Homo sapiens: one gene and its partners. The protein of the gene in region 1 interacts with the protein of each later gene in a pairwise test. Each region holds a gene or a part of one and is shown on either strand. Other genes may lie near its edges.

Region 1 (3,500 bases):
GCTGTTCTTGCAATAATGAGATCTGGTTGTTTAAAAGTGTGTAGCACCTCCCGCCTTGTCCTCTTGCTCCTACTCTGGCCACGTGACCAGTGTGCTTCCCCTCTGCCTTAGGCCATGAGTGTAAGTTTCCTGAGGCCTCCCCAGAAGCCAAGCAGATGCCACTATCATGCTTCCTGTACAGCCTGAAGAACCGTTAGCCAATTAAACCTCTTTTCTGCATAAATTACCCAGTCTCAGGTATTTATAGCAATGTGAGAACAGACTAATACAGTGATATATGTCCAAACACATACATTTTATAGCAGACAAGAACCTGTTACTAGCCAGCATCATTAACTCTACAAATATATTTCGTAGCAATTGAGTCTATCTCCTCCCCAATCAAAACAGATTTTAGATTGCAATTTTAAAACACCAGCCAACTTAAATAAACCTGAAATTCTTTAAAAGTCCATTGTCTATGAGTTTCCAATGCTGCTATAATAAGCAACAGATTCTGTTAAAAATAGACTTACAGAGGCTTTCCATTTGTTGTATCAAATATTTCCTATAAAATATACCTTAGAATTATTGTAATAGACTTTTGTTAATCACTTAACCTATAATGAAAATATTTCTAATGATAATTTCCAAAAACTGTATAGAAGGTAGCTCCATATTAAACTTAAAAATCTCTAATAAATGAAATTCAAGCAATAAAAAAACACAAATTTATGCTACCCTATTGGAAAAATGTATGAGAAACTTTACCTCAATTTTCTCAGGAAATGCTAATCTTTGGTCACATACTTTCTGGTTAGTACATTATTCTTATTTTTTTTTAATACGAAGTACAACAAAACCAAAAACAAACAAAAATCAGAGGTGCAAGTAAGAGAATAGCCAGATGACTGCATCTGCCTGCCAATGAATAAGCAAATACTTACCTGTAGGGGGAGTGGAAGAAACAACAGGGGGAGTTGGAGAAGTGAAGCCATCAGCAAGGGTCTGGGCACCCCCAGCAGCAGCGTCTGGGGCAGTGGAGGAAGGGACAGTAGCAGGAACAAGAGGAGCAGGGGCAGATGCAGAAGTAGCAGGAAGGGGAGGAGTGCCAGCAGAGCCAGCAGGGGCTGAGGGGAAAGAGGAGTAAGAGGCAGCATTAATGAGGCAATCACATGAGGCAGGATTAGAAAAGGTATTAGAGTATTTAATGTTAGATATTCAGTGCTTAACACTAACCAAAAGAACAGAGTTGAAAAAAAGAATAAAACTTATGCTAAAGGATTACTATATAAGCAGCAAATAATTCAAGATGCTCAGGGTAATGTGCAGATTTTTTCAATTCATTAAAAACAAACATTCCTTTTCAATTGAAAGCACTACTCCAGAAGAAAAGTGTTCCCTTCGTATTGTTATTTTTAGCATAACATTCTGTATATAGTATACAAAACTAACATAATACACTAAAAAACAACAGTTTTCCATTTTGAATTACACAAATCAGAAAATAGACATATTCCATATTATCAGATTAAAAATTTTTTTTAAAACACAAATCTTTATGATTTTTAAAAGGCATTATCTACTTGTTACTATAAGTAAATTAAGTATGTAACATTCTATTAATGTATTTTGTGTCACGTTTTCAAAACTAAGTTTTAAGTGTGTATCTCCTCGAATCAAATAAGCAGATTTTTCTGTTTCAGAGAAAAGAGGGTAGTATTTTCAGAGACTACTAAATTCCAATACAGCCACTAAATTTAACTGTCAAAACTACTTTTTATATCTGCCCAATCCTTTGTTACTAATATGGTTCTCACACTGAGTTCCCACTGTGTCCAAAGACTGCACTGTCATAACACTAGCTGGAATTAAACTTGTACTCATAACAAAGTGTGATCTGAAACCTCAAAGCAGCAACTGAGCCACATCACCAAAGGCATAAAGAGAAGTGCAAAGTGAGCAAACACTTACAAATCACTTGCTTACAAATAACAAATATATAGACTTCCCAATATTTATGATTCCTAAAGAAAAAAAATCCTGATTACGAAGAAAGCCCACCATAATTAAATCACAAATTGAATCAAATTCAGAAAGGAAAAGTGAAGACGAGGCACCATGAATGTTTTACCTGGAAAGACACTGGGAGGAGATGGAGTAGGAACAGCAATAGGAACCCCCACACTACCACTTCCACTGTTCTCTCGACTGCTGCTCCGACTACTTGGGTGGCTCCCTCCACTACTCCCACTGCTGCTAAAGAAATAAGAGCCACCAAAACATGAGTATTTATAAACAGTAAGAGATCATCAGCACTTCCCGACATTTTCTGAGATGAATGTAGCTACAATAAAGGTAATTCAAAAGCGTACCACTTCAAAATAAAATTTCCTTGAGCTCCAAGTCAGTGACAGGTTAAAAAAAAATGTGTGTGTGTGTGTGTGTGTGTGTGTGTGTGTGTGTATATATATATATATATTTACTTATTAATAAAGTTGAGGGGAAAACTGAGTTCAATAAGCTTGTTTTGACCACATTTTGAAAAAATTATCCATAAATACAAGTGATAAATGTTGAGGTTTAACACATTAAAACAATAAATATTGCCTTTTTATATTCCAGTTTAATGCCTATCTGAAGAAACTTCTTTTATAATAAAACAAAAACATTTTCCTAAACAGATTTGAGTAATTTTAATTAATAATCATACTCTGATGTACTATCCCATATTAATGTTTTATTATGTATAGTTTTTCATCTGTAAAGTTCCACCAAAAAACAACCTGACATTTCCCACATTTGGTCCATAATTTTTTTTCCAGATCAACTGAACTCTTAAAACTTGGAGAGAAGTCTGCACTTTGAGATGTCTGTTCTTTATCAACTTCCTGACTGCTCAAAGTTGAATCAGAACATGAGGAGAGAGAGGTGAAATCAGATGAGGTTTGGGAGAATAGAGTGAGGAAAAGAACTTAGTGCTTGGAAAATGAGAGATTTACCTGAAGTAATCTGAACAGATTATGGTACTATGACCATCACATTTTGCACTGAGGTAGAGAAAATACCTGTAAGTTCGATTTCTTTGATTCACAGAAGCTGTCCTCACAGGGCTCTGCTGCGAGGGAGCCATATTACGGGTTGGGCTAGGTACGTAATCATTTGGTACCACTGGAGGACGCACTGGCTCCAGTGTGCGATAGGGGGAGTGCCGCCTACAAAAAGAAGAGCGTATGTATTGTATGATTAAGCAAGTTTCGGCACAATAAATTCAAAGAGTTGCCAGCAGTTGAGATACAATTTGTAATCAGAGATAGGAAATGTGTTTTAACATAACCCAGCTACCAATTTCAGTCTTTACTAATGTATCACTTCTCCACCATTAGGGTTTTGGTGAATATTGTTATTTTTCAGTCTCCAACCTCATTTCCCTGTGCTAATGCAATTTTGTTCATTTATTCTCAAAGAGCACAAAGGTTCTCTACCATTTAAGCCAATGTTTCCCAGACCCTACCTCTTCT
Region 2 (3,953 bases), about 130 Mb from region 1:
CACACATTTACTGAATGCCTACTCTGTGCCGCAGTTCCTGGCAGGTGTGCCTGACAGTGGGTGTGTAATATGTTCAGGGTCTGTATCCCATGAGCGTGGGGATCTCCTTTATCTTCTGGCACATATGGTCCTGGGGGAGAAGCTAAGGGGAAGGGTCAGGAGCTTACATGGCAGATTCAGTAAGCTTTTAGCACAATAATTTTAATTGCAAAAATAAACAGTTTTGTCAACTGCTTGAGAGTAGCGTCTGCTTTACAAAAATTAACAACAACAAAAGGAAAAAAAACCCAAAGCAAAACGTTACATCCAATGGCTGCTGGATAAGACACTGCTGTACAAAGTCCCGCGCGAGACCGCCTTGGCGCTGCCCCAGCCTGTCTCTGGGGGTTATAGAGGAAGGCGTGGGGCGTGTGCCAGTTACAAAAGACTGTCTTGAATCCCAGGGTAGTGCCTATTCACTGGGTGGTCTCAGAAGACTTCCCCCAAAGCGCGGCTGACAAGGGTGACAGCGCCTGGACCGCGGGAACTGTCCGCGGAGCTGGTGCTGAATAGGGCGTGTGCGGCGGGCGCTTCAAGGAAACTGGAAGCGGGACCGGAGGCCGGCCCTCGGGCGTGCGAGGAGGAGTTGGAAGAAGAGCGGGGAGGGGAACGGCCCGGAACTCGTGCGCGCCGAACGGCGGCGCCCCAACCCATAAACCCATCTCTTGCTCAGAGAGAAGCGAAGGAGAGGCCCAGCGAGTAAAAGCCGAGGCCCTTGAGCCGCTCCTCGGCGCGCGCCTTCTGCTTGAGGTGCACCTTGCTGTGCCGTTTCTTCTCATCGCTGCGCGCGAAGCGGCGGCCGCACACGTCGCAAGCAAAAGGCTTCTCGCCGGTGTGGGTGCGCACGTGCGTGGTGAGGTGGTCGCTGCGGCTGAAGTTGCGGAGGCAGATGCGGCACTGGAAGGGTTTGTGGCCCGTGTGGATGCGCAGGTGGCGATTGAGCTCGTCGGAGCGCGCAAAGCTCCGCACACAACTCTCCACCGGGCAAGCGAAGGCCTTGGCGTGCGGCCGCGGGCAGAAGCAGCGCGTGCTGCATTTGCCGCCGCGGCGCCCCTTGCGTCGCGCCTTGGCCTGGGGGAAAGGGGTGGGCGGCGGCGGCGGCACGGGTGGTGCAGCCACGCCACTGCTTCCAGGGATGTCCGCCACCAGAGGTTTAGGGAAGTCCGCCGCGGCGGCGCTGCGAAGGCCCAGCGGGGAAAGCTGAGGCTGCGTACTGGCCAGAAACTCTCCGCCGTCGCCGCTACTCCCTCCCTCCCCACTAGGAGGGGTCAGGAGCCCAGGGAGGCCCTCAGCCCCCTCCCCTAAGTCACCCGGGGCCAGCGGGAAAGCGTCATAGGCCCCGCTGGGATAGAGTCTGTTGGCTGGGACGGCCGGCAGTTCCGCAGGGCAGCTGATGGACAGCAAGTCCTCAATCTTGGTCCCTATTACGGGAAAACGAGCCTCCGGGGCGGCCTGGTAGTCTCCCTGTGACCCACAGTTCCCTGGGGCCCCCACAGAAAGCAGCTCCCAGGGCGCGTAGGGACCCTTGAAGGCAGAGACAGCGTCCAGCGCTGGCGAGGCGGGAGGCGCCCGGAGGCCGGGCTTGACGTCGGGCGGGGAGAGCTGAGGCTCATACAGGCACTGCGAGGGGGCACCCGCGCAAGGCGAGGCCTCCCAGAACGCCTCTGGGAAAGGGGCAGCGCCCAGATCCGGGGAGTAAAGGTCCGGCGGACCCGGCAGCAAGGCATCGGACCCCGCAGGAAAAGGGGCATCCAGCGGGGATCTGGACGCTGCTGCCTCTGGACCGGGGAAGGGTGCCAGGCCTAAGATGCCCGACATGAGGTTGAAGAGTGCCTCCGGGTCGTGCGGGTGTTCGGGCACTGCCTGAATGAAGAAGCTACCGCTGTAGCTGAGGCCGGGAGGGGGTGTGGGCGCAGGCCCCTCCAGGAAGCAGGAGTCGGCTAAGTCCCCACTTGCGCCGCAGCTGTTCAAAGCCCAGCTCAAGAAGTCGCCTGCTGAGGAGGGAGCAGGAATCAGCTCTGGGCACATCAAAGGGTGCACCTGAGTCCACAGCCCCTACCTACAAAACTCTTGGTGCCCACGGATATACACAAAGTGCCTTTTGCACATTCTGATTCAGCAGGGGCCCGCATACGTCCCAAGGAGCACATAGAAACATGCACACGCAAAACACACGTGCACAGGCAAAAGGGCGCTCCGATAACCGCACAGGTTCCTGCGGAGGCGCTGGCGGCCCAGTGTGGGTGGGAATGGGGGTGCGCACCCCAGGACTCCTAAGCTTCCCATCGCCCCTATTCTCATAGCTCCAATGTCCCAGTCCCTCCTGGTTCTCAGGTATGGTGCGCCCCCGCGCTGCGCCGTCGTCGTCTGAGCACCCCTGCTCGCCCTCCTTACCTCCAGGGTAGCCGGTGGCCGCGGGAGCGTCCCTGGCAGGCAGCCGGGGCAATTCAGCGCTGGGTTCGGCGCAACAGCCTTCAGTGGACTTGACGAGGAGCGCGTCGGGTTCGGAAAACTCGCTAAGGTGGAGCATGGCGCGGCGCCGGCTGTGGGGCGCCCGGGGCCTCGCCCGCTGGGCTTGGGGGCGCGCGGGTGGCGGGGAGGCTGGCGGTAGGGGTTCCCCGCAGCGCACAGACCTAGGCGCCCGGGCTCCTGGCTTCGGGCACTCACCTCTGGGAAAGGAGTCGGGGAGCCGCGGCGCCCTCGCTCGCCCGCACCGGCCTCGGGCGGCGGCTCCTCGCCTCTCCAAAGCGCTGCCGGGCTCCCCCAGCCCACAGCCCCCCCACTTATATAGCTGCGGCGGCGCTGGCTCCGGGCTTCCGACTCCCCGGGCCACTGCCATTTTGGGAGGCCCCGGCCCTGCCGCCGTGACGTAAATGCCCAAACATGGACACAGGATGTGTGCCGGGGACTCCCGAAAAGGAAAGCTCGAGCTGTGACGTTGTTGTTGTCGCCGCCGCCGCCAGGCTCGCGCCGCTGCGTGCGCGCGCGCTCCCCAGGCGTGGAGCGCTGGGGCCGCGGATGCGCCAGTCTGGGGCGCTGCGCCTCACCGGGCCGACCGTCCGGTAGATGCGCTTCCCACCTGGAGGCAGAGGCCGAGGGGCAGCAGGGGAGGACCGTGTTGGGTTTGAATCTGCCCTCTGCCACTAACTAGCTTGACACTCAGTCCCCCTTAACGTCAGTTTCTCACCTGTGCATTTCCTGTGGAGAGAAACTGAGAGCACATAAATGTCCAGGCGCACTCAGTAAACCACAGAGATTATTGCCATTCATTTCTTTTGCTCACGCCTGTGTGTTTTTCCATTTTAAGTTTTTTTTTTTTAAATTTGTGCTAGGAAAAATAATTTAAATTAAAAAGGACTGTAATACTTGTTAACAGTAGGAGGAAAGTCAACTAGCACAACAGGGTATATTCTAAATTGAAAAGTAAAAGTCCCTCCTCTCCACCTACCTTCATTCCTAGCTCCTGAGGTAGCCACATTTAAGTTTCTTGGGTATTCTTTCAGAAGAATTTTATGTATATCCAACCATACACATTGTTCTGCAATATTATTATTATTATTATTTTTTCACTTGAAATAACTTAGAGATTGTGCCATGTCCTGACATAAAGATCTTGTCATTCTTTTTCAAGGCTGTATAGTACTCCATTGTAAGGGAGGACCTTGAGTTAGTCGATTTGTCCCCTATCCATGAGCATGTAGGCAGTTTCCAACTTTTTACTTATACCAATGTTGTTGGAGTCAACATCCTTGACTATATAAATGTGAATGTGTCTGTGAGATAAATTCCAACGAGTGTAATTGTGTGCCAAAGTATATGTAAAATTTTGATAGACAACTGGCAAATTGTCTTCCAGAAAAGTAGGGCCAATTCCTGCTCACTCCTCCCTCACCCACAGGGTATGAGATGCTTCT
Region 3 (3,500 bases), on another chromosome or scaffold:
AGGTATTTTTGCTTCTTCAGTTTTATTTTATTTTATTTTTTTTGAGACAGAGTTTCGCTGTTGTCACCCAGGCTGGAGTGCAATGGTGTGATCTCAGTTCACTGCAACCTCCTCCTCCCTGGTTCAAGTGATTTCTCCTTGCCTCAGCCTCCTGAGTAGCTGGAATTACAGGCGCCTGCCACCACGCACAGCTAATTTTTGTATTTTTAATAGAGATGGGGTTTTACCATGTTGGCCAGGCTGGTCTTGAACTCCTAACCTCAAGTGATCCACCCGCCTCAGCCTCCCAAAGTGCTGGGATTACAGGTGTGAGCCACCGCACCCGGCTGCTTTTTTGGTTTTAGTTATTTTATTGAATTTCTTCTATGGAAGATGTGGATTTAATCTTCTCTCACACCCCCATTCTTCCCTCACCTTCCCCCTTTTAATACAGTTATATCACAAATTTTGGTTAATCAATATTTTGTGTTTACATTATTGTGACTACCCAAATATTATTTATATGTGAGTCACCTAAGGTACTGTAGCTGTATTTCCTTTCTCAAATAATTTTTTAAATTATTTCTAAGTTTTTTCAATGGATAGAGATAGAAAATGAATATATTTAAGAAAACTTCTTATTGACATATTTATATATACAGAAAGTCCCCCAGAACATAAATGTATATTATGGTGATTTTTCACAAAGTAAATACATCCATGTAACTACCACATAGATCAAGAAACATATAACATTTAATTTTAAGAAAATATTAATTACCAAAGTTTTTCACCTGCTTAATTTTGTACATACATCACTAATTCATTCTAAAACTGAAGTGAATTGAACATATCCTCTTGACATATTTAAATATAGAATATATATATTTTTATTTCATTTTATTCATCTTTTGAGGCTCCTTTCCTGGAAACTCTAATGTAACCTGATTGTGTTAGAATTTTCTTCCTCTTTTATATTCTCTATTTTTGATTTCCAATTCCTCACCTTTCTTGGTTTATCTCCTTGATTTGGGAGTGTACCATAGCTCCTTTTCAAAACATAAATGCAATGATAATTTTCATTACTGAAAATATTTTTATTCTGTCCTATACTTGAATACTATATTTTCTGTGGATATAAGTTTCAGTTGGAAATTATATTCCCTCAAAATTTTGAAAGTTTTGTTACTACATCTTCTAGTTTTGTTACCTCTGAATATTCTGCCCTGTGTTTTCTGATATTTTGTAGATCTGTTTTTATATTTCCTTTCATGAAATTCTTGACCTTTTTTTCATATTCCTGGTGTTCTGAAATTTCACAACAATGTGATCTGGGGTAGGTCTTGATGCATTTATTTGGTAAACATATAGTTGGTCTTTTCAACCTAGAAACTCATGTATTTACGGTCTTGCTTTTTTTTTAAATAATTTCTTTAAGAACTTTATTTTCTCCATTTTCTTTGTATTATTTTCATGGCCTTTCAGACATTAAGAAAATTAAAGAAACAGTCCAGTCCAAGAAAAGCAACGTCCAAATAAGGGGAATTTTAAAGTGACTTGCCTAAGGCCACACAACTAAAAGGTGGCAGATCCTACGTTTAGACATATCTACTTGATTGCAAATCTGTTCTTTTTCCCCTATTGTCTATTGAGTAGAAATTGGTTATCCTAGTGAAATATACACAAATAATGTTTATCTATATCAAATACTGTATTATGTTACTAATATACATACTATATCTATTTAAAAGAAAAAATTTAGCAGGAGATAATATAGCATATAGGATCTAAAATAATGTTGTTGTTTGAAGCTTTATTAGGATCTTTAATATAATCAGACCAAATTGATCACTTTACACTATAAAAGAAGAAAAATAATTTGGATCTCACAGACTGATGTTTACAGAAAGTCTAAGAAATATTGCATTTTATATTTGGTACTATATGGAGATTGATATTCTTATATTTTCTTCTGCTTCAACTCATAGTCATCTAACCAAATTTCTGTTTCCTTCTCTTGTACTAGCTTGTCACTATGAATTGTTTTTTAAAAATTAATTAATTAATCAATTAATAGAGAAAGGATCTCGCTCTTTTGTCCAGGCTGGTCTTGAACTCCTAGCCTCAAGGGATCCTTCCACCTTGACTATGAATTCTTAAAAATACAGCATATATAGCTGAAGTGCTAGTTGCCACATTATTATTTTTTAAACTGGGTTGCACCCGTGTAAATATAGGGAAAAAGAAAGAGTAACAATGTTAGAAGCTCAGAGGCGAGAGAAAGAGAAAGTGGCATCAAACAAAACAGATTTTGATTTTCTATCCATAAAAATTAAGTCCTATATTTATACAATGGTTCAGTAGCTTTTAACAATCTTTAATTTTCACATTCCTCAAGAACTACAACATCTTGAACTTTCTCTTTGGTTGCATGGTTTGGAACAAATCCTGAAACAACTCCCTCTAATGTTTTTATGACTGGAAAGATCTTTGTCCTTTTTTGGGCGTGTTGTTTTGTTTTATTTTTGAGATAGGATCTCACTCTATCACCCAGGCTAGAGTATAGTGGCTCAATTGCGGCTCACTGCAGCCTCTACCTCCCAGGCTCAAGTGATCCTTCTCCCTCAGCCTCCCGAGTAGCTGGGACTACAGTTGCATGCCACTGTGCTTGGCTGATTTTTTAAAATTTTTTGTAAAGATGAGGTCTTGCTGTGTTGCTCAGGCTGATCTCTAACTCCTGGGCTCAAGCAATCTTCCCACCTCCGCCTCCCAAAGTGCTGGGATTATAGGCATGAGCTAGTGCACCCAGCCTCTTTTTTAAAAAAATTAGAAATAAAGTAATCAAAAGCCTTTTTCTAAAGCATCATAGTTTAAAAATTTTTAAGAAATAGACTATTTCAAATTGCTATTGGAGCACAGTGTACACAGGCCTCTGGGAAGGTGAATTTTCCTGTGAAGTGCCTTTGAGAAGGTGCATTTTACTGCCACTGATTTTGGAAAGCAGGATATTTGAGTCTGACCTCTATAAAGGTTGTTTTTTTCCTGGATTTTTATCCATGTAATATCATTCCCTGAACATGCACCACACTTTTATATTTGAATAAAAGGTACTTTAAGGAGCCCTTTAAAATATATTAATATGTCCTTTTTATTAATCTTAATGAATTTACAAGCAAAAAACAAAATATCCTTTTTTTAATATCTGTATACATTATTGATATTAAAGGCAAAACATGGAAATAGAATCAGGTTTCCTTTCAGTGTTATACATCATGGCAATGCGTATTATGTAAACGATGTTTAAAGTGAGCTATAAAGGTTATACTGTGTTTGTCTTGGTTTATGGATCCTATGCCTGTATTTCTTTTGAACATTTAGAGAATATTTATGTGAAAGATCCTTTACATTATTAGGTTATTTCTAGTTTCTTAGGAGTAAATTCCTATGTTTGCTGTGGCCACGGACTGGTGACCACTCTGTTAAATGTGGGCAAGTGTATTTAGTGAAATTCGTCAGTAGCC
Region 4 (3,500 bases), on another chromosome or scaffold:
CAGGGTGAGCAGGGCATTCCTGCAGGCAAACAGCCTGTTATGGGGAGTTGGAACCCACACAAGTGAGGAGGGATCCATGCAGCAGAGGCAGCCTGGAATGGGGAGTCAGGGCCCATGGAGCGGGAAGAGGTATCTATAAGGTGGAAAGGACGGAGTTAGAGAGCGGGGATTGATTCATACAGGGGAACTCATTAATATGTAAATAAACCAATGAAAGTGAAAGCTGTCAGCAAAGGGAGTTGCAATTAAGGAATGGAAGTAAATCAGATTGAACCCTATGGTGCTGTATTAGATCTGGATCAAACAGTATAGACTAGTGGTCATAGAGATATTGATGTAGATATATAGATACAGGCCAGACACGGTGGCTCATACCTGTAATCCCAGCACTTTGGGAAGCTGAAGCAGGTGGATCACTTGAGGACAGGAGTTCAAGATCACAAACATGGTGAAACCCCGTCTCTACTACAAATACAAAAATGAGCCAGGCGTGGTGGCACACACCTGTTGTCCCAGCTACTCGGGAGGCTGAGGCAGGAGAATTGCTTGAACCAGGGAGGTGGAGGCTGCAGTGAGCTCAGATTGCGCCACTGCACTCTAGCCTGGGTGACAGAGTGAGACTCGGTCTCAAAAAAAAAAAAAAGATATATAGATATAGAAATAAATACAGATGTAATGTGTGTATACGTACACCCATTATTATATTTACACTTACTCCCTAACTCCACTGAGAAGGCCTGGGAGCAGTAATACCCCAAAAGCATGAGTACATCTAGTGCACAGCTTTTGGCTTCTGATTTTCACTTTCCACTGAAAGAGATCAGGGCTCTTTAGAGGTATGTTCCAGAAAGCAGTCAAGTGAGCAAAGAACAAATGGGGTTGTATCTGGGAGATGCAGAAGCCAGCTTGAGTGGGGTTTGTCACTGGTCAAATCAGGGACAGTTTGAGGATCAAATTAACGATAGTAATGGATTTAAGCCCATTGAATAAAGATAAAATACTGATACAAATAACTAAATGAATACATTGAAAATTCGATGAGGAATGGGATATTTATATAGTTTCAAAGGACGTATCCATGAAATGAAAATTAAAGTTATTAATTACAGAAGGGTGAAAGAGTAACATTACAGGGAGGAAGACTGGCAGACGCCATCCTAATAAAGTAATTAAAATGAACATCATCAGTAATGAAAAAAATGAAAACATGCCAGTTTATAGGATGGGATGAGAACACAGCATCACCTCTGTACTGTTTTTGCCAAAAATCCATAACGTGAGTCCCATCATTAGGAAATATCAGACAAACTCAAATTGAGAAATGTTTTATACAATTGGCCTGTAACCTGTAAAAGTGTCAAGATCATAAAAGTCAAGAAAAGGTTGAGAAACTATTCCAGAGTTTTGTTGCCAACACATGGCAACAAAATGAAAAGTGTGACCCTGAACTGTATCCTTTTGCTATAAAGATGTTATTGGGAAAATTCGAGAAACTTGAATGGGGTCTTCTTAGATGACAGGGTCCCCTTGTGTGGTTCCCACAAAGACATTCTCCTTCATAACCACAATACAATATATCTCATTTACTAAGGGGACACTGAAGTATTCTAAGGATAGGGAATCAGGTGAACAACTTACTCTCAGAGAACTCAGGGGATAAAAGTTCTTTATATTGTACTTAATTTTAACAGTTTTACTTTTAAAAAAGTTTTACTTTTAAAAAAGTATTTTTTTAATGGTGGCTATTAAAACATATGAAGCATTTTTTTAAATGGTGGCCACCATGTAGGGTATCTGCTAAGTCTGCTCTATACTCTCAGAATTGCCTCTCCCATCTATAGGGGTGGGTTCCTGTATTTCTGAACTATGTGGCTCTGATCCCAGGGAATAAAGGTGGATTCCACACTCAAGCCATGTCAACAAAATTCTGTCTTCTACGAATTTGTATTTGGAAATCAGAAGCTAATTAGTTTCTACTGCCTACTTCAAACCTAGAAAACACGTAAACTGAAAAACTCCATCTGACATTTTGGGGTAGCTGTCTTCTACAGTGAGCATAGGGTAGACAAATCTGGTCTGCAGAGAGGGAAAATAGCAAAGCAGATAGATACCCAGAGAGAAGTAGATACAGGAGACAAGGCCCAAGAGAGAACGAAAGGCACTCCAATTCTAGTCCCTCATGAAGCCTCAGCTCCTGTAGGATACTACAGCACCCGCACAAAGTTCCTCCTTTTTGTGCAGGCCAGCTTGAGTGGATTTCTGCCAGTTGTAGACAAAAGTCTGTGACATCTCCTTCCCTACCTTGTGCTAAACTTTACAGCAACCCTGCTCCTTCTACAATAGGTCTCTTGGTGCCACTGTCAAGGGTGACTCTTTGATCATTGGTGTGACCCAAACATAACACCACTTAAGGGATCCAAGGATCTCAAGTCGGTTTCACTCACCAAGGCTGGCCTCGGCCAACAGCAGGTAAGCAGGCACAAGCTCTACGGAGCTCAGGCCATACAGCTTCACACGGAAGCGAAGGGACTGCAAAGCTGCTGGTACAGCATCTTCGTGTTTCCCTTCAAAGAGGTATTTCTGGGCTATGGTGTAGCAGAATTCAATCAAATACTTCTGTGGAAGAGAGAAACAGACTATCTGAGACAGTCTAAAGTTAAAGGCAAAGGTGGATGTAGATGGCCCTGGGGATAAGGCCAACACCTAATGACCCAGTTAAAGGCACATAGTGAGCCTGCCTGTATTAGAGTGGACGTGAAGCCCCACATAAGTGATATAAGAAAGCAAACTCTGGACTATGAGTTCCTTAAGGCCCAGGAACATGTGTATTTTCATCTTAGTTCAGCGCTTGGCATAGATGAATGCTCAATATAGAGTTATCAGATGAATAAATGAGTATTGTTTTTACAGTTCTAATAAAACTTTACTTTAGCAAAGCTAGCATGTCTCAGGACAATCTGAAACTTTCTGCCTTCCTAGTTGAGTTAATTTTGAGAGAAACATCTCATTTTCCCTTCCAGAATTATCCTGTTTAGCTAATATCACAAAAAACTTTAACTCTGCATTGTTCTAAGGCCACTATCAAAGTGTCATAACACTAAAATGGATGGATCTTATGTTTAGAGATTTATGGCTTATAATAAGGGGCTAATTTTTTAGAGTGATTGAGATGCTCAATACTCAATAATACTCAACACTATACATAATAATAGTGGCAGGTTTTGGTAACCTCCTTTATTTATTCAGTAGTATATCCATACATCATTCTTAACCCTCCTATTATGTGGCCAGACTCTTGGCATCTGTGGATGTTATGGGCTGAACTGTGTCCCCTGCCAAAATTCATGTGTTGAAGCCCTATCCTGCAGTCTGTCACATGACTATAATTGGAGCTAGGGCCTGTAGAGTGGTGATTAAGTTAGAATGAGGCCATTAGGGTGGGCCCTAACCTAATCTGACTTGTGTCTTTATAAAAAGAGGAAATTGGACACACAAAGAGA
Region 5 (3,500 bases), on another chromosome or scaffold:
CACACTTAAGGCTGAGAAACTGTATACTTCCCCCAAAGACTGGGAATAACACGAGGATGTCCTATCTCACCACTCCTATTCAACAGTGTTCCAGAAGTCCTAGCTAGTGAAATGAAGCAAGCAAAGGAAATAAAATACCTTAGGAAGAAAGGAATAAAGTGGTCTTCATTTGCAAAAGACATGATTGTTTATTTAGGAAATGCTAAAGAATTAACAAAAAAAACCCCCTAAAAGTAAAAAGTGAGTATAGCAAAGTCACAGTATATAAGGTTAATATACAAAAGTCAAATGTTTTCCTATATACTGGCAATAAATGATTAGAATGAAATATAAAACTAAAAACACCATTATCATAGCACAAAAAACACTTATAAGTCTAACAAAATATGTAAATGATCTGTATGTGACAAATTACAAAACTATGAAAGAAATCAAAGAAGGTTTTAGCTAGAAAAGGATAGTGGAACAGGACCTCCCCAGCCCTTGTCCTTCACAGAAACACCAATTTAGCAACCATCTATGTATAAAAGTGCCCTGATGGGTCCAAGTAGAAGGCTGTGACATCCTTCTGGAGTCCAAGACTGATAGAAGCCATTTTGAGAAGGCAGAATCATGCCCCAGTAGCAGGCATGTGACTACAGAACTGGCTCCAGACCCAGCAGCAGCCTCATCAGCATGTGGGCTTCAACTCACCTGTCCAAGGTCTCACAGGAAGACTTGTTTGTCTGGGAACCCAGAAGGAACCACACCCACCCAAGCCCCAGTAACAGGCCCACAACCGCAGACCTGATTTTGAACATGTAAGCAGACCCACAACCTGGCTCCACCTAAGTGACTGTGGTTTGGAAGTCAGTCTCACCAAGGGACCCAGCAAGAGAAGATCTTCATCTACTGAAATCACTCTGTTTAGTACAGAAGTGGGAACTGCTCCTTCAAATGTACAGACACCAATGAAAGACTCAAGGGATTATTAGTAAATACAACATGCCAAAGGAAACCAATAAGGTTACAGAAACTGACTATAACAAGATGAAGATCCATGATCTGCTTGACAAAGAATTCAAAATAATCATCTTAAGCTCAATGAGCTACAAAAACAAACAAACAAATAAACAAACCCAGATAGAAAATGAAATAAAAATCAGGAAAACAATACATGAACAAAAAGTTCAATAAAGGAGAAGCATAAAAAAGAACCAAACAGAAATCCTAGAGCTGAAGGATACAATGACTGAACTAAAAAATTCAATAGAAGGCTTCAACAACAGACTCAATCAACCAAAAGAAAGAATCAGCAAACCTGAACACCGGTCATATGAAATTATACAATTAGAGGAAGAAATATTAAAAAGAATAAAAAGTGAAATGAAGTAATACTACGGGACTTATGGTACACCACTAAGTAACTTAATAAACACATTATAAAAGTTCCAGAAGGCAAAAAGACAGAGAGAAAGGGGGCAGAAAGCACATTTAGATTATGGCTGAAAACTTACCAAATCTAGGGAGGAAAATGGACATCCAGACTCACGAAGCCCAAAAGTTCCCAAATAGGTTGAAGCCAAAGAGGTCTGTACCAATAGACACTATAATGAATTTGTCAAAATTCAAAGACAGAGAAAAAATTTTGACAGCAGTGACAGAAAAGTAACTTATTTCATATAACAGAGCCTCCATAAAGGTATTGGTGAATTTCTCAGCAGAACACTTGCAGGCCAGGAGAGAGGGAATGACATATTCAACATACTGAAAGTAAAAAAAGAAACCTGCCAACTGAAAATAATTACCTGAAAAAACTGTCTTCAGGAATGAAGGAAATAGCCAGGCATGGTGGCTCACACCTGTAATCCCAGCACTTGAGGAGGCTGAGGGCAGGCAGATTGCTTGAGCTCAGGAGTTCAAGACCACCCTGGCAAACATGGTGAAATCTTGTCTCTACAAAAAATACAAAAATTAGCCAGTCATGGTGGTGCATGCCTCTAGTCCCAGCTACCTGGGAGGCTGTGGTGGGAGGCTGACTTGAGCCCAGGAGGTTGAGGTTGCAATGAGCTGAGATCATGTCACTGCACTCCAGCCTGGGCAACAGAGCCAGACCTGGAAAAAAAAAAAAAAAAAAAAAAAAAGAAAAGAAAAAGATAAAAGAATAAAGAAAACATGAAAACTTCCTCAGATTAAAAAACTCAGGGAGTTTGTCACTTTTAGACATGCCCTAACAAGAAATGCTAACAGGAGATCTTCAAGTTAACTGAAAAGATACTAAACCAACAGTATGAAAGCATATGAAAGTATACATCTCACTGCTAAAAGCAAACATGAAAACAAACATGGAATATTGCAATACTGAAATCTGTGGCACGTAAATCTCATTGAACACTAGTATATAAATTAAAAGACAAAAATAGTATGAGTAACTACAACAACCACAGAAATTTGTTAATAGAAACAATATAGAAAGAAGTAAAATCTGAAATCAATTACATACATTGGTGAGGAAGAGGGGGGAGAAGTGTAGAGATTCTGAATATGAATGAAGTTGTTACTAGCTTTAAAAAGCCTGCTATGACTACATAATATTTGATGCAAACCCCATAGTAACCAAAATAAAAAGTATAGTAAATAAACAAAAAAAAGAAAAAAATCAAAGCATTCTACTACAATCATCAAATCACAAAGACAACAAACAAGAGAAAAACAGGAGAAACAGAAAGCAAATAGAAAACAATGAATAAAATGGAAACAATTAAGTACTTAATTATTAAAAATTATTACTTTAAATTTTTAATAATTAAGGGCTCTCAGTAGACATGGAATGGCTGAAATGGATAATAAAAACAACACTCAACTATACGCTATCTACAAGAGACTCTAACATTTAAGGACACACGTAGGCTAAAAGTGAAGGGATTGAGAAAGATATTCCATGCAAACTATAACCAAAAGAGAGCAGGGTGGCTATCTATATCAGACAAAATAGACTTTAAGTCGACAACTGTCAAAAGAGACAAAGAAGGCATTATATAATAGTAAAAGGGTCAATTCAATAGAAAGATACAACAACTAAAAATACATATGCACCCAACATCAAAGCACCTTAAAATATACAGTGAACATTGACAGATTTGAAGGAAGAAATAGATATCGATACAATATAGAAGGAGACTTTGATACATCACTCTCTATAATGTACAGGTCATCCAGACAGAATGCCAACAGCAAATATTGATAGAATTGGAGGAAGAAATAGATATCAATACAATACAGAAGGAGACTTTGATACGTCACTGTCTATAATGTACTGGTCATCCGGACAGAATACCAACAAGTAAATTGCAAACTATACAACACTATAGACCAAAGACCTAACATGCATATACAGAACATGAGACCCAACCATAGCAAAATAATCATTCTTCTCAAAAGGACATGAAACATTCTCTATAACTGATCACAGCCTAGGTCACAAAACAAGTCTTAACAAATTTAAGAAGACTAAAAACATT
Region 6 (4,296 bases), on another chromosome or scaffold:
GCTGGGCGGAAGGCGCGCGCTCCCTCCCATGGGAAAGACAGATGTGGGGCTAATGAAAGGGAGGCCGAGAGGCGCGGGGACGGCCGGGGAGACGGGGGCGTGGCGGGGAGAGGAAAGCTCCCGGAGAAAGCCGATCGGACCACCGCAAGCGAGGCATGCAGCGGAGTCCGGAGGAGGAAGGCGCCGGGGACTGGGGCAGGGCCAGGGCGGGACGGGGGTGGGGGGTGTGGGGGGTACCACAGGCAGTTGGACCCGAGGGTCCTGAGCTGAAACTCAACACCCGCCTTTGGAAGGATCGTCCCTCTTTCTCCTCCGCCCCTTCCCTTCCCCTCCCCTTTCCCCTCCCTCCTTTCTCTTAATCCCCAGGACGGAGCCCTGCGCGGGAGAGGAGAGGGCCTGAGGGGAGGAGAAAGGAACAGCACTGAGAGGGGCCAGGAGCCCAGGAAGGGGAGGGAAGGGCAGCCGCGGGCCAGGGGTGAGCCTGCGGGCCACGCGCGACCCCCGGAGCCTTCGCAGCCCTCTCAGTGTCCCCACTCCCAGCCCAGGCGAGTCCACAGGACCCGGGCCCCTGCTCCTCCCTCGCCTTCTCTTTGCTCCTTCTTTTGCTTTGTGGCCTTTCTTTCCCTTCCCAGAGACACCTGGGAGCTGCCCCCAAGCTTTGGGGCGCCCCGCGGGGCCCTGCCAAGGGTGCGTGTGAGAGAGGGCGGCGGAGCCGGCGCCGGGTGCCAGGGGCCGAGGGTGGGAGCGGGAGCTCGTGGCCCTGCGCCCTGGAGCCGAGGACTGGAAGGGGGCTGGGCCCCTCCGCCGCCTGGGCGCAGGCCGCGCGTCGGGAAGGCAGTCCCGCCTGTTCCAGGGGTGCCTGCGTGCTGGTTGCTGCTGCCCGGGGCGAGGCGCCGTAGCGGCGACCTCAGACCCCCGGGCGCGCTGAGTGAGTGCGCGCGTGAAAACCGCCGCACCGCCGGGGGTGCGAGTGTCTGGGCCGAAGCGGCCACTCCAGCGACCCAGCCCCACGGCCACGCTCTCGGGGGCCTTTGGCTCCAGGCAACTTGGGGCAAGCGTCTCAGTTCTCGCTCTCCCTTCCTCCCAGCGGGGTCGCCGCAGACCCCAGCCCTGGGAGCACCGCTCTGCAGCGCGGCCGGCGGGTGGAGACGGTTGGCCCCTAAACTCGCTCGTCCAGCCCAACCGCCCCGGCGGCTTCTCCCAGCCCTCGAGGCTCTCCTGAGCGGCCTGGAGAGGCGTCGAGCGCAGCCCAGCGCCCGCCTGCTCACCCGCCCCGGCCCGGGAAGGGAATTTTCGGATCCTGCGAGCCCGGGGCGCCCCCGCGGCCTAGGGCGGGCAGCTCCCGGGGCCTGGCCGAGCCGGTGGCGCCCGGGAGGCCGCGGGGACAGCACGCAGCGCGCGCCCTTGGATGCCGTCCCGCAGCGACGCCCCGGCCCGCCCCGCTCCTCCTCCTGCCTGGCTAGCCTGCCTCTCATTTGGGAAGTTTTGTGGGTTTTCTTTCTCCTCCTCCAACCTTGGCGGAGGCCACGACTCAGGCGCCACAGCTGGGGGCTAGAGGCCGCGGACCATGGTGCGGGGCAGCCACCGCTGAAGTCAGCAAAACCGAGCCTGGCCTGAGGCAGGCTGCGCGGGAGGCCAAAGCCATGGCCATTGCCACGTCGGTGAGTCCACCAGGGAGTGGAGGCTGCCGGGGAGAGACCTCCACGGCCTGCCCTGCGCTCCTGTCACTTTATTTCTGCCCTCTCTTTGTCTCTCTCCTTGGTCCCTTTCTTCTCCAGGAGGCTGTGTCCCCCTCCTCTCACTTTTGTTTCCCTTCTCCCTCTCACTCCTCATCCCCTGCTCCTCCTGGCTCCGGGCTCGCCCCTCTTCCCCGCCCCCTCCCCATTCTCCTTTTTCTTCCTAGAGGCTGCGCCTGAATGGAGGGGAAGGGGCAAGCGTAGCCCGAGTCCTATCTGCTCCTTTTGGGCGGGAACAGATGGCCACTGGTGGTTGGCAGAGGCTTGTGGTTGGGAGGCAAGTAAAAGGTTTGGAGGGGGCTGAAAGGACCTAGTGGCTCACGGAAAACGGAAAACGAGAGGCTGAACGACCCCAGGAGGCCCATCTCGAGACGAGGGATAAGGAAAAAAGGGAGATAGAGCAAAGGAGGGAGATCAAGAAAGAGAAGACAGAGGGAGGAGGGGAGGTGATGTCAGCCAGAGCCTCAGGCCACTTTCCAGGGATCGGGACAAAGGGAGGAGACAGCTGGCATGATGGGACAGTGGGAGGAGGCCTCCCAGAGAGCACAGAGGCTCTCTGCCACCTACATTAGGCTGGCCATTCCCTCACCAGTCAGCTGGGCTGCTGGGGGATAGAGCAGGAGTGGTCACACCCATCATCAATCAGTCCATCAACAACTCTGTCCTGCAATGGCAGGGCCCAGAGGCTTGGCTCCATTGGACAGAACTCAGTCCTAACACCGGGAGGAGCGCTCTACAGCCCCACCTCTGCTTTCTGTTCTACAGTCTATGCAGTCTGAATCCAGGCAGCTTTGTTCCCTTTCCACCCTCTTCTAGGTCCTGCCTAAGATTCCCAGGGAAGCGAGGCCGTCACCTGCTTTCTGTTCCCTTCTCAGTGGGGACTCTCGGAGAGAGACTGGAAAGAGAAGCACAGAGCCACCCAATGTCCTCCCATACCCTTTGAGGACAGGTTCAAGTTTGGTTCTTTCTCAGACCAAACTCCATTTTTTTTTTTTTTTTGAGACAAGGTCTCACCCTGTCACCCAGGCTGGAGTGCAGTGGCACAATCACGGCTCAATGCAGCCTCGACCTCCTGGGCTCAGGTGATCCACCTACCTCAGCCTCTTGAGTAGCTGGGACTACAAGCACGCACCACCACATCAGCTTTTTGTATTTTTTGTAGAGGCAGGGTTTCGCCATGTTGCCCAGGCTGGTCTCAAACTCCTGGGCTCAAACAATCCATCCGCCTCAGCCTCCCAAAGTGCTGAGATTACAGGCATGAGCCACCGCACCTGGCCCCAAATTCCTTTTAGTTCCTCAATCTGTAACGATGGCCAGGAAACCCTAGCTCAGAGTGGGGAAGGAGGCCCTCTGGAGATAGAGTACCTCTGGGAGTACTCTGGCATAGAGATACTGGTTCAGAAGCCAGCTGGTCAGCTTTGTAGTCCCAAGAATGTAGATTTTTCTTTTTGGGGTCAGGGGCATTTATGCTAATCAAACTCACAGGATTCTAATAACAGCTATTATTTATTGAGCATTTACTGCACCTGGCCCTGTGCTGCGCTTTGTCATAGTTTCTTTATGCGTTATCTCATGCAACTCTCACAACTACCCTGTGAAGGTAGTATTGTTATTATCTGAAAATGGATATGCGCATATGGAATTCTACAGAGAAGGAAATTGAGACTCAGAAAGGTTAAACAATCTGCCCAAAGGAACCTGGCTAGAAAGGGACAGACCTGGCTGGGCGCAGTGGCTCACACCTGTAATCCCAGCACTTTGGGAGGCAGAGGCGGGCGGATCATGAGGTCAGGAGATCAAAACCATCCTGGCTAACACAGTGAAACCCCGCCTCTACTAAAAATACAAAAAATTAGCCGGGCGTGGTGGTGGGCGCCTGTAGTCCCAGCTACTCGGGAGGCTGAGGCAGGAGAATGGCGTGAACCCGGGAGGCGGAGCTTGCAGTGAGCCGAGATCGCACCACTGCACTCCAGCCTGGGCGACAGAGCAAAACTCCGTCTCAAAAAAAAAAAAAAGAAAGAAAGAAAAAGAAAGGGACAGACCTCCAAGCAGTGGGTCGCAACGGTAATCCCAGGTATTTAGGAGGCTGAACCCAGGCATTCGAGGTTACAGTGAGTTATGATTGTGCCACTGCACTCCAGTCTGGACCACAGATCAAGAGCTGATCTCTAAAGAAATATTTTAAATAAAATTTTAAAAGAAAGAGACACAGCCAAGACTCAAGCCCAGGTCTGCCTCTAGAACTGTGCTTTTAATCCCCTGGCTAGATCCAAAAGACTGATTTATAATTTACAACTAAAAAGAAAAGTGCAGCACTAACCGGGAATTTGTGTCATCTGGTTAGCACGTTTCTTTGTGTGGGACAATATCCTTTAGAAACCAAAATATAATCAGAAAATGGTTTGATGAGTTGGGAATCAGGCAAGAAGAGGGGTCAATTTGTTGTTAAAATCACCCAGCCATGAGAGGCCGGATAACCTCACCACCAGAGGGAAACATCAGCTAAGAGGAATATGCACTCCTGCTGACTCTAGCAGGGCATCCTTCTCCCCAGGGTCTG
Region 7 (3,500 bases), on another chromosome or scaffold:
CTAACAAAACATGAGCTCAGGGTGGCGGCCAAGGGCTACTAAGAAATGAGGGCAGGGAACCGCGACCCCTACCACGGGCAAGGGAGGCTTGCTTCTTCCTCATGCTTTCTCCCCGGCTTCAGTAATGAAATCCCCACAGTTCTTTACTAGCACAGGACAGCCACCAGTTAGCAAGGGATTCCTCCGACCCAGGTGCCATCCTAAGTGCTCTATGTGGGCCAACTCATGACAATACTGTAAGGTATGTGCTAGTATGCCCATGTTGCAGATGGGAAAAGTGAGGTATAGACGCTGAGTTAGTGGAGGAGCCAGGATTTGAATCTGGGACATATGGCCCTCAAGTCACTGGTCTCTACCATTACACATACTGCCAAAGACCCCTGAAGACCTGAGTGAGGCAGGAGGGGCTCTTTAAAGATGTCCTGCCTCTCTGATCTCTAGTCCCTGTTCTCATCTTCCCACATCACTGCCCCAACATCGTGGTCCCACCACCAGGGCAGGAATCTTGTGCAGAGCTCCATCGAACCCCGGGGACAGCAGTGATGAGAAGCGGGACCCTCCAGTGTCACCGGGAGCTTCCAGCCTGAGAGAGGAAACAGGGTTTCATCCTTGCAGAGCCTCGGGCTAATAGGGGAGGCCCAGTTCCCACTCTTGGAAAACTCATGTCAGGCCCTAAAACTCAGTCCATTCCCCTGAGAAGCACCAGCCCAAAAGAGAGATGCAAGGCCATTGTCAACCCCTGGAGTTCATTTTCCTTACCCCAATGTCAGGCCGACATGTTTTATTTATATCACAGACACGTTTGTTCTTATGGAACACTCAGTGTCCTTACATATTTTTAAAAATTCTAGAAGTTTTTTCTCAAAGTTGTCTTGAGAAACCATATACATCATAAATTCTGGTTGTTTTTTTTTTTTTTTTTTTGAGACGGAGTCTCGCTCTGTCACCCAGGCTGGAGTGCAGCGGCACGATCTCGGTTCACTGCAAACTCCGCTTCCCGGGTTCACACCATTCTCCTGCCTCAGCCTCCCGAGTAGCTGGGACTACAGGCGCCCGCCACCACACCCGGCTAATTTTTTTTTGTATTTTTAGTAGAGACAGGGTTTCACCATGTTAGCCAGGATGGTCTCGATCTCCTGACCTCGTGATCTGCCCGCCTCGGCCTCCCAAAGTGCTGGGATTACAGGCGTGAGCCACCGTGCCCGGCCATAAATTCTGTTCTTATCCCCACCAAGCCCAGTTCTCCTGCCCCAGCCAATGTGTGTCCCTCAGCCCCCAGGGTCAGCACAGTGTCCTGACAACATGTATAGGTGGAACTGAAAATCAAGCACAATGAGGGACCTTAATCTGCCACAGAAAACCACCCGGCCCACTCAAACCCAGGCATGTAAATCACTGCCAAGGTTGCATTTCTGTTAGCACAGACCACTGGGAATGGAATGCGCCTAAACACCAACTTCTGACAGTGGCAGCTTTATTTTAAGGGACAATTCCATCAAATAATATCCTTGAGTTTGATGAAACAGGTGCAAACTTGTTTTCACTTTTCTAGGACTTGGAGTCACAATCTTAACAGCTGATACAGAAATTTTTTTTTTTTTTTCGGTCTCACTTTGTCGCCCAGGCTGGAGTACAGTGCTGTGATCTTGGTTCACTGCAACCTCTGCCTCCCAGGTTCAAGCAGTTCTCCTGCCTCAGCCTCTCGAGTAGCTGGGACTACAGGTACACGCCACCACGCCTGGCTTTTTTTTTTTTTTTTTTTTTGTATTTTTAATACAGATGGGGTTTTGCCATGTTGGTCAGGCTGTTCTCAAACTCCTGACGTCAGGTGATCTGCCCACCTTGGTCTCCCAAAGTGCTGGGATTACAGGCATGAGCTTCAATGCTTGGCCAAGATGTTTTTGTGAGTACATCAACCCCTGAGAAAATCTGTTCACACTTTAGTGTGTCTACATCTCGATTTTTTCTTTTCTTTTTCTTTTTCTCTTTTTTTTTTTTTTTTTTTTTTGAGACAGAGTCTGGCTGTAGCCCAGGCCGGAGTGCAGTGGCGTGATCTTGGCTCACCGCAACCTCCACCTTCCAGGTTCAAGCAAGTCTCCCATCTCAGCCTCCTGAGTAGCTGGGACTACAGGCACGTGCCACCACGCTTGGTGCTAATTTTTGTATTTTTAATGGAAATGGGGTTTTACCATGTTGGCCAGGCTGGTCTCAACCTCCTGGCCTCAAGTGATCCACCTGCCTCAGCCTCCCAAAGTGCTGGGATTACAGGCGTGAGCCACTGCGCCCGGCATTATTTTTTCTTTGCATATACCACCATAAATGAATTTATTTTACTAAAATGTAATCAAACCATAAATCCTATGCAACTAGTTTTTTCCACATAATAAGATATTGTGGCCATCTTCCCATGTCAGAATACGTAGGGCTACGCCATCATTTTTAGTGCCTGAGTAGCATTCTGTTGACTGAGTGAAGCATGATTTATAATCCAACTCCCTCTACCCCATCTCTTCCCAGATGAGCAAGTCAGAGCCCAGAGACGCCCAAGCCATTTCACAAGAAGACACAGAGGGGTGACTTCAAATGATCAGTCCAAGAGTTTTGCTGTGAGAAGGAACATAGGAAGGTAGCCAAGTATGACATGGCTTCCCATAGCCGGCTTTAGACACCCCAACACCCCTACACCCACATCTCCACGAACCCACACACATCAGAAGAGTATGCAGCTTCGCCTGGGCTCCACCCTGACAGCTGCCTTTGTCCTGGGCTCTGGGGACCTGCCCTCAAGCCTCTAACACAGACCTCAGGGCCAGGAGGCCCCAGAAGCTGATGCCTTGGGCTACTGTCTGCTGTCCTAGTGTCATCACACACAGGGGTCAGTGACTTGTGTTAAGGCCTTCTGGAGTAAAGCCATCATCTCTCTGCCCCTCCAGTAATTTACTAACAGAGATGGAGGGACCCAGGTCTCACTCTGCCAAAGGCAATCCCTCGGAGAAAGATGACCTGGGCCACCCCCAGGGGAGGAAGAAAGAAGATGGCAAGACCGACATTTTCCCCATTAGCAGCCCTCTGGACAGCTCCCTCGGGTTCTGGGCCTCTCTGAGTGTTGAGAAGCTCCAGAAGCCTTGCACTCTTGCCACTTATAGGGAACACGCACCAGTTCAGACAAGGCCTCCGCACTCCCCAGCTGTGGGACCTCAGACAAGTCTCCCATCCTCTCCGTGGCCCTAAGCCCTCATCTGGATGTATCCCTTAGGGGGTTTCAATGGGAATGAAATAAGATAATCCTCAGCACACTGCCTAGAACGTGGCTATGCTGCATTTGAGTTATCATTGCCCCAGGAGGCTGGTAAAGAGCCAGGAGCAGTGGGTAAATTGGCCAAGCTGCCCTCACAGGGGGGATGGGGTAGGGAGATTCTAGGGGGGTCTTCCCCAGCACCTGGATGTCAATCCCTGGAATTCTTTCAGCCCTCTGTAAGGAAATATTGATCCTCATGGCC

Evidence for each region.
Region 2: the proteins of ABI2 (region 1) and EGR4 interact in binary tests that used the Homo sapiens proteins (3 or more experiments, as listed by UniProt).
Region 3: the proteins of ABI2 (region 1) and STX19 interact in binary tests that used the Homo sapiens proteins (3 or more experiments, as listed by UniProt).
Region 4: the proteins of ABI2 (region 1) and ZMYND12 interact in binary tests that used the Homo sapiens proteins (3 or more experiments, as listed by UniProt).
Region 5: the proteins of ABI2 (region 1) and CEP44 interact in binary tests that used the Homo sapiens proteins (3 or more experiments, as listed by UniProt).
Region 6: the proteins of ABI2 (region 1) and EFS interact in binary tests that used the Homo sapiens proteins (3 or more experiments, as listed by UniProt).
Region 7: the proteins of ABI2 (region 1) and CUEDC1 interact in binary tests that used the Homo sapiens proteins (3 or more experiments, as listed by UniProt).

The regions. Positions count from the first base shown.
Region 1 is NC_000002.12:203,394,394-203,397,893, reverse strand, and holds part of ABI2 (abl interactor 2), read right to left. Parts: intron 3,195-3,500; coding exon 3,048-3,194; intron 2,239-3,047; coding exon 2,114-2,238; intron 1,110-2,113; coding exon 927-1,109; intron 1-926. UniProt on the Homo sapiens protein: Regulator of actin cytoskeleton dynamics underlying cell motility and adhesion. Functions as a component of the WAVE complex, which activates actin nucleating machinery Arp2/3 to drive lamellipodia formation.
Region 2 is NC_000002.12:73,290,749-73,294,701, forward strand, and holds EGR4 (early growth response protein 4), read right to left. Parts: upstream 2,801-3,953; 5' UTR 2,570-2,800; coding exon 2,434-2,569; intron 2,034-2,433; coding exon 709-2,033; 3' UTR 181-708; downstream 1-180. UniProt on the Homo sapiens protein: Transcriptional regulator. Recognizes and binds to the DNA sequence 5'-GCGGGGGCG-3' (GSG). Activates the transcription of target genes whose products are required for mitogenesis and differentiation.
Region 3 is NC_000003.12:94,022,098-94,025,597, forward strand, and holds part of STX19 (syntaxin-19), read right to left. Parts: intron 1-3,500. UniProt on the Homo sapiens protein: Plays a role in endosomal trafficking of the epidermal growth factor receptor (EGFR).
Region 4 is NC_000001.11:42,446,023-42,449,522, forward strand, and holds part of ZMYND12 (zinc finger MYND domain-containing protein 12), read right to left. Parts: intron 2,617-3,500; coding exon 2,445-2,616; intron 1-2,444. UniProt on the Homo sapiens protein: Required for sperm flagellum function and male fertility.
Region 5 is NC_000004.12:174,290,411-174,293,910, reverse strand, and holds part of CEP44 (centrosomal protein of 44 kDa), read right to left. Parts: intron 1-3,500. UniProt on the Homo sapiens protein: Centriole-enriched microtubule-binding protein involved in centriole biogenesis. In collaboration with CEP295 and POC1B, is required for the centriole-to-centrosome conversion by ensuring the formation of bona fide centriole wall.
Region 6 is NC_000014.9:23,362,373-23,366,668, reverse strand, and holds the start of EFS (embryonal Fyn-associated substrate), read left to right. Parts: upstream 1-1,496; 5' UTR 1,497-1,643; coding exon 1,644-1,661; intron 1,662-4,296. UniProt on the Homo sapiens protein: Docking protein which plays a central coordinating role for tyrosine-kinase-based signaling related to cell adhesion. May serve as an activator of SRC and a downstream effector. Interacts with the SH3 domain of FYN and with CRK, SRC, and YES.
Region 7 is NC_000017.11:57,885,913-57,889,412, forward strand, and holds part of CUEDC1 (CUE domain-containing protein 1), read right to left. Parts: intron 1-3,500.